2 linked regions of the Homo sapiens genome follow. The protein of the gene in region 1 interacts with the protein of each later gene in a pairwise test. Each region holds a gene or a part of one and is shown on either strand. Other genes may lie near its edges.

Evidence for each region. Proteins that work in one complex are often made in the same cells at the same time.
Region 2: the proteins of RMDN3 (region 1) and SLC30A8 interact in binary tests that used the Homo sapiens proteins (3 or more experiments, as listed by UniProt).

The regions. Positions count from the first base shown.
Region 1 is NC_000015.10:40,753,704-40,757,454, forward strand, and holds the start of RMDN3 (regulator of microtubule dynamics protein 3), read right to left. Parts: upstream 1,552-3,751; 5' UTR 1,380-1,551; intron 1,088-1,379; 5' UTR 1,081-1,087; coding exon 894-1,080; intron 1-893.
Region 2 is NC_000008.11:117,151,871-117,155,621, reverse strand, and holds part of SLC30A8 (proton-coupled zinc antiporter SLC30A8), read right to left. Parts: intron 2,679-3,751; coding exon 2,532-2,678; intron 1-2,531. UniProt on the Homo sapiens protein: Proton-coupled zinc ion antiporter mediating the entry of zinc into the lumen of pancreatic beta cell secretory granules, thereby regulating insulin secretion.

The DNA of each region.
Region 1 (3,751 bases):
CCTATGCCGTAGAAAGTCCACTGGACCAGGTGACCAGGCCCAACCTTGCCACTTAATCTGTGACAGCCTCAGGAAAGTTATACCATCTTTTTGAATCTTGGTTTCCTCATAGGAGGGATAAAAAGAAAAAAAAACTTGAATGAGATAGTTGCCAAGTTGTCTTGATAGTTGCCAAGTTGTCTTCAAATTCTAATATATGATTTAATACATAAGCCTCAAGACTTTTAATCCCTACAAGATTATTCTTTTTGCCCTCTTTTGGACTCTTCCTCTACTTATTACACACCTCACCCAACACTAAGCAAGTGCCTTTAATACCCACATAGCACTATTGTGGCCAGAACTAAAAGTGAAAGTTAAACAGTCTTTTTGAAATATACTTTCTTGTGAGTACAGGCGAAAGAGTAGAGAAAACCACGACTGCTTTTTTTTTTTTTTTTTTTTTGAGACAGAGTCCCACTCTGTCACCCAGGCTGGAGTGCAGTGGCGCAACCTCAGCTCACTGCGGCCTCCGCCTACCAGGTTCAAGCGATTCTCGTGCCTCAGCCTCCCCAGTAGCTGGGACTACAGGCCGCGCCACCACGCCCGGCTAATTTTTGTATTTTTAGTAGAGATGGGGTTTCACCATGTTGACATCTGGTTGAACGTTGGCCAGGCTGGTCTTGAACTCCTGACCTCAGGTGATCCGCCCGCCTCGGCCTCCCAAAGTGCTGGGATTACAGGCGTGAGCCACCGCGCCCAGCCCGACGACTGCTTTTTCAACAAGCTTCCAAAAAAGTGAAACCCTAAAGCACTTCTCTCCGTTACCCTGTCCCACAGTCTCCACCGAAAGCAGCCCAGACCTCAGGCCCATTAGTCTGCAGTGACCGCGGTCTCAGGAGACGGGCTCCTACCGTGGCGTCCGGGATCTGAAGTCTGCGTATAGTCCAGGGAGTTGGGCAGGCTCTGGCTGCGGCCATGACGCTGGGTCCGTTTCCATCGCTGGCTGTAAAGGAGGCACAGGAATCCAAGGCCGGCGGCGGTACCCAGCAACAGTCCCAGCCCGGCACGGGCACCACCCAGGGCTCCCAGTCTAGACATGCTGCACCTGCGGCCAGCAGAAGTCACCGGGAGCAGGCAGGCGGGCGGGCGGGCGGGGGTAAGGAGAGAGAGAGATTCGTGAACCCGGTAAACCCACCCTCAAGGCTGAACCCCGGCAGGTATCCCCTTGCCCAAACCCTGAGCTCTCGACTACGTGCACCCCAGTCTGAACCCTAAGGCTTCCTCCAGCCTCCTGGGCCCCACTGCCTCTCTTCTCACCCAGCCTGGACGTAGCCGCCCCTCCAGTACACCCCCCGACCCGGGTCACAGAGTCCGGCTTCTGGGCCTTCAACCCCCACCTCAGCCTCACGACACTGCAGACCACAAACCCGGCGCCCTGGCTGCAAACTCCTGGCCTTCCGCCGCGGCCCCCGAAGGCGCTCTGGCCTGGCAGGAGATCCACTCAGACCCTTACCCGGCCGCCAGCCACCATGGCAGCAGCCGCCGCGGGCTCACGCTGTCAGTGACCGTGACGTCAGGCAGGCGGCGCCAGGTGCTCGGCGCCCTGCGGGAAGGCGCAGAGAGATGACCGCGCCGGCCCCGCCCCTTGTCTGTTTCCCTCAGGGGCGGGGCCACGGGCGCCGCCGGAGGGGCGGAGTCAGCACAGAGCGCGAAAGGAAAGCAAGAAGGGGCCCAAGACAGGGGAAAGGCGGGAAGGCAGGGAGACTTCTTGGGCGGACGCTCGCGCAGTCACCCTCACCGTCCGGCAGCCAGGCCTCCATTTCCCTCCGGTCACACCGGCTTAACTTGCTGCTCCCGGAATACGCTCAGCATATTCACACTTTCTACCTGCGCTTCTGCCTGGACCTCCCCTCTGTACCTGGAAAACGTCACGCTCTCCCCACATTTTATTTTTATTTTTATTTTGTAGAGACTGGGTCCCGCTCTCCTGGTCTCTCAAAGTGCGATCCGCCCGCCTCGGGCTCCCAAAGTGCGTGAGCCGCCGCACCCGGCCATAAATCTTAAACCTAACGTGCTGTCTTATAATTCTGTTTTACTCTTGTAATTGTATGCAACTTCTTATAATTGTGGCAACTAAAAAGACCGATTTTATGGACTATGATAACAATTTTATTGTGAACATTTCTTAAGAGTTAAAATTTAGTTTAGTGAAAGAAATATCTAGGCCAGTCCTCCCAATACCCTTGACTAGATCTTATATTTATTTACCCTTTAATTGTGAGATATTGTATACATATAAGAATACAGGAGGCCGGCCGTGGTGGCACGTGACTGTAGTCACAGATACTCTGGGGGCTGAGATGGGAGGATCACTTGAGCCCAGGTCGTCGAGGCTGCAGTGAGCCATGATCACTCTGGGCAACAGAAGTCAGGATATCGAGGCCACCCAGGCCAACCTGGCGAAACTCCGTCTCTACTAAAAGTACAAAAATTAGCTGGGCATGGTGGTGCACGCCTGTAATCCCAGCTACTCGGGAGGCTGAGGCAGGAGAATTGCTTGAACCCAGGAGGCAGAGGTTGCAGTGAGCCGAGATCTCGCCACTGTACTCCAGCTTGGGCAACAGAGTGAGGCCTCCTCTCAAAACAAATAAACAAAAACAACAACAACAAAAAATATATTTATATATATATAAAGTATATATATATATATACACTTTATTTTGGAGGAAATAAAAATTTCCTCTGGAAACCTTCCCAGATCACCACCTTGGTGAAATTAAGCTTTTCACCCTGCTTTGCTCCTGTGGCTCTATTGCCTCCATTATACTTTTTTTTTTTTTTTAGACGGAGTTTCGCTCTTTTCGCCCATGCTGGAATGCAGTGGTGCGATCTCGGCTCACTGCAACCTCCTCCCCCGCCCCTGGGTTCAAGCAATTCTCCTGCCTCAGCCTCCGGAGTAGCTGGAATTACAGGCTTGCACCCCCACGCCTGGCTACTTTTTGTATTTTCAGTAGATACCGGATTTCTACATGTTGGTCAGGCTGGTCTCGAACTCCTCACCTCAAGTAATCTGCTTGCCTCAGTCTCCCAAAGTGCTGGGATTACAGGCGTGAGCCACCGCACCAGACCCATTACACTCTGTTCTGTGATTATTTGCTTTCTACTCTGTCTACACCACTGGACTGCCCACTCTTCCAGGATGGGGTTCACTCCTGATTCATCCCAGGTCCCCTGTGCCTGGCACAGCTCTAATGCAAAAGCATCCATAAAAGCTGAATGGAGGAAGGAAGAAAAGAAGGCGTGACCGACAGCACGCCCTGCCACTTTGACAGTGTGTTCTCAGCTGTGGCAGAAAACTCAGTGGCAGAACAATAATTTCTCCTCTCTACGGGGGGGAGGCAGCTCTGTGAGATAAACGGATTGTGATGAGAGGCTAGGCCAAATGGGCAGACCAAGCAGGGGAATTCATTTCCCCCTGGATATTAAAGATGTTATCTGGCAGGCACGTGTCTGCCAGGGCAATCAGCAGTGTGGTGGGTGGCTCTGGACAGAGCTCTTTATCTTGTGCTGCATCTGCAGACTAGCTTTGCAAATGTAATAAAGGCCTGGCTGCCTGAGATATGCACTGCCCACCTTCCCACCCCCTCCACAGCCCAGCCTGAGAAGAGAGCAGACCAGACCCCAAACTGTTGTCCTGCCCTCTGCCCAGAACATCTGCCTCATCTACCCCGGCTCTTCCAAGAGAGGTGACAAGTCAAATGCCTTGGGA
Region 2 (3,751 bases), on another chromosome or scaffold:
TCATTCATAGACAACCTTCATAATTTGTTATGAAAATTAATAATGTACCCCCCAAAATACTGTACCCAATTTGTAGTACATTATTAAGGCAGCCCTAGGAACCTAATATAACATATAGCAAACACTCAAGAAATTGTTATTTTATTAGTCTACTCAGGCTACTTACGACTCCCCTTTGCAGAAGTTTATGAGGACCAAGCCCAAGAATTTCTGGTTAGCCGGAAATGGAGGTTGAGTCTGTGGATGTCAGGTAGTGTGCTTCCTATCCATGAAAATCCAAAACAGGGTATGAAAGTGGAGTGTGTCTAACTCAAAACCCATGATTAGGAAGCACAGTGGGAAAAGAGCTGGCGAGGTAAAGCTCAATACCAAGAGCAAGAGTCAGGAGTCAGATCTTAAGACAAAACAAAGAGTCAGAAATCCAAAAGTAACTAGTTAGAACAGGAGGCACATGAGGATCATTGGTAAATGTTACAATGATTGCTTAAAAAAGAAATAAGTTAGCTTAGCTGGGCTCATTGGGCTGGCCAGATTATGGGTGTGTTGCGTATGAATGTGTTGGACTCACCTCTGTATCTATAGAGGTGCTGTTTAATATGGTAGCCACCAATCATGCATGGCTGCTTAAAATGAAATTAAGTAAATTTTAAAATCTGGTTCTTCAGTAGCACTAGCTGCATTTAAAGTGCTCAATAGCTACATTTTACTGTATATTACAGAATATTGCCCTCGCAGCAGAGAGTTCTATTAATAGCTCAGGGTCTTCCATGGCCACGATGCCAAAGTACAAGCAGAGATCTAAATTCTGAGTTCACCCTACATTTTCAAATCATCCTAGGTTTACAAAACTGCTTTGACAAATGGTATCAGAAAGGGTCAAGTACATGTAAAACTTTACACAGACAAATAATGGGTGCTTAGCTACAGGTCCATGTTTTCCAAGTGTAGCGCTGTTCAAGCACCAGCAAAAACATTCTCAGATCACGTTGTCACAAACTCTCTTTACTGCTGTTTATTGCCTCATCTCCTGAATGTTAAAGGGAAGCAAGTCAAAACACCTGCGATGATCAAGTGTTTGTTTAGTATGAAATTAGGACTTCCTGCCATTCTAAACTTGAAAAGCCGCAGTCCACAGTTATCAGTCTATAAGCTGTGATATGTGTCTAGCAGCCCTTTCAGTGAAGGCTGGCCACCCTTGCTCAGCTCTCCAATTTCCTCTACATGGATGTTCTCAACCAGTGTGAAAATGTGGAATTGTGGCTATTTGTTCACATGATTTGCACAAAATATTCAGCCGGAACCTCCTCCAGCTGATAGAAGGAATAACACAGAGGAGAAGAATTGAAGTTGCAGAGTGTGGGGGTTGTGGGGGTGGGTTAGGGAGGGACTGTAAAAATGAGTCAAAGTAAAAACCCTTATCAATACCTAGATGATGGGTTGATAGGTGCAGCAAACCATGACGGCACACGTTGACCTATGTAACAAACCTACACATCCTGCACATGTACCCCAGAACTTATTAAAATTAAAATTAAAATTTAAAAAAGCATACAGTCAAATGTGTTATATACCAAATTTAGAGACCTCCAAGTTGTTTATGCTACTTGGTTAAGTTATTTATGTCTGTTTTAGTGCATACATGTTATTTGAAATCCCTATAATTATGAGTTGAGAAGGCTGGAATTTGCACTAGACTTCTTCTCTCCCTTTCTTAATCAGAGTGGATTCATTTGTCTATTGTGAAATTATTTAAGGAAGCACACGTGAACCACATTTAATAAATGGCAGGCAAGGCTCAGGCACATGTTTCAGCACGTGTTTGCTTTCCTCCTGTTACAACAGTCAACTGAGCAATAAAGAATGAATACACACACACACACACACACACACACACACACCCCTTATCATGACCTTGGCTACTGCCTATACAAGAGTAAGCAGTTATTCAGTGAAGGAACCAGCGCAAGAAAGGAGAAAAAGTAAACTTTCATCTTCTCCTCTTCCTTCTCCTCCTCCTTTTTTGCATTATTGTTGATTGAGCGAGCAAGATATTCAATTGGACCAATGGCTGAATGGCTAAATGCTGTGTGTGAGCAGGAAAGCCTATATTCTATTCCTGAATCCTCTATAAGAAGTTCTTCAATCTCTATAACTCTCTTGGGTGCTCTGTGCCTCATTTTGCAATATGGCAGAAGCTTTACTCCTATCCTCTCTTCCAGGGATGCAGAGTAATTTAATGAATTGCGTTATGTCTGTCACCATACACAGAGTCCCTGAGGCTGGGGCAGTTGCTGAAGTGATACACGTGTTCCTGTTGTCCCAGAGGACTAGAGATAGCACCATTAATCTGTCTGTTATCTGAATTAATATTGAAAACACACATTCCCACATACACATTTGTTTTATCCTGTGCATCAGAAATGTGTCTCTAAGGACTTTCCAACAAGGCTTTGCTTCGTGTCTTCCACTTTTACCCTTGGTTTGACTTTGCAGCACCAGCCTGCTGTTATTGCTCACTCTATGAACCGTACCTGCTCGGTGCCATCCAAATGTCAGCCGCTTAGAGGGAGGCTTCGATGACAACCACAGGGAGAAGAGACTGAGCAGGAAACTGGTCAGGTCAATTAAGAGGTGGGCAGCATCTGTGACAACAGCAAGACTCCCAGCAATGTGCCCACCTAGAGAATGCAAAATAGTACACTGTGTTAAGGTCCCAGAATGCAGCTAGATTCACAGACATGCTAACCATCATGGGTGAAAATGCCACAGACTCACAAAACTTTAGAGGAAAAAGAGATCTTAAAGTTGATTTAATTCACCCCTTCTGCGACTCAGAGAGGGGATATGATTTGAACATGTAGAAATCAATTTCAAAGGAGAAGCCATTCCTGGGGTAGAAAAGACATAGAGACTAGAAAGTGTGGGGCAGGCACATCTGGAGAACACCTTAATTAGACTGGGTATAAGGATTCAAAAGAGGAGAATACAAGAGAATCAGGCTGAAGCAGTGCGGGTCAGATTCAAAGAGTCTCATAATCCAGACTGAGGACATGGACTTTTGTTTATAAACTAGATGTTGCGATCTGGCCCACAGATGTGTTTTTATTTGACTTATAATTTAATCAGCATCTTTACCCTTTCCTTTTTCTCTATTAATATATATTATCCACCTGAGCTTGAAATCCCTGTAAGAAATAACAGGGAGCAGAAAGGAGAAAGGGCAGGTACCTTCCAATGGGCGTCCTCAGTGCTACAATCCAATAAAGCATAGGGATGCAATGTAAGCCATGAGAGTCCTGCCTGGCTTTTCCCTTTATTTGATGTGCTCCCTCTACTTCCCTCTAATCCTCCTTTGAGAAAAGACCTCCAGCCTCCAAAATAGAAGTTAAAGAAAAACCTTGCCCTTTCCTTCCCAGACATGGTTTGTTGTTTGAGAGCAATAACCTTTATTGCTCTTACTACATCTTCCCAGCAAAGGGCTTTTGCTGACTGATTAGTTCTCCCTACAGCTGTTTATTGCCTTGTGTACTACAAAATAGCAGAGACTGTCAGCCATCAGCCCCGCCATCATCAGACTCACCTTGTCTCGCCTAATTTTTAAAAATTACATAGATGGCTCATAATTGCAATAATCCCCACAGGCCATTGGCTCTAGCCGTAGTTAATAACTGGTTTGTCAAGGTTTAATGGGCTGAAGCAAAGTAATCTTCAAGCTTGTTACTGAACAGTCACTGCAAAAATCAGAATGATT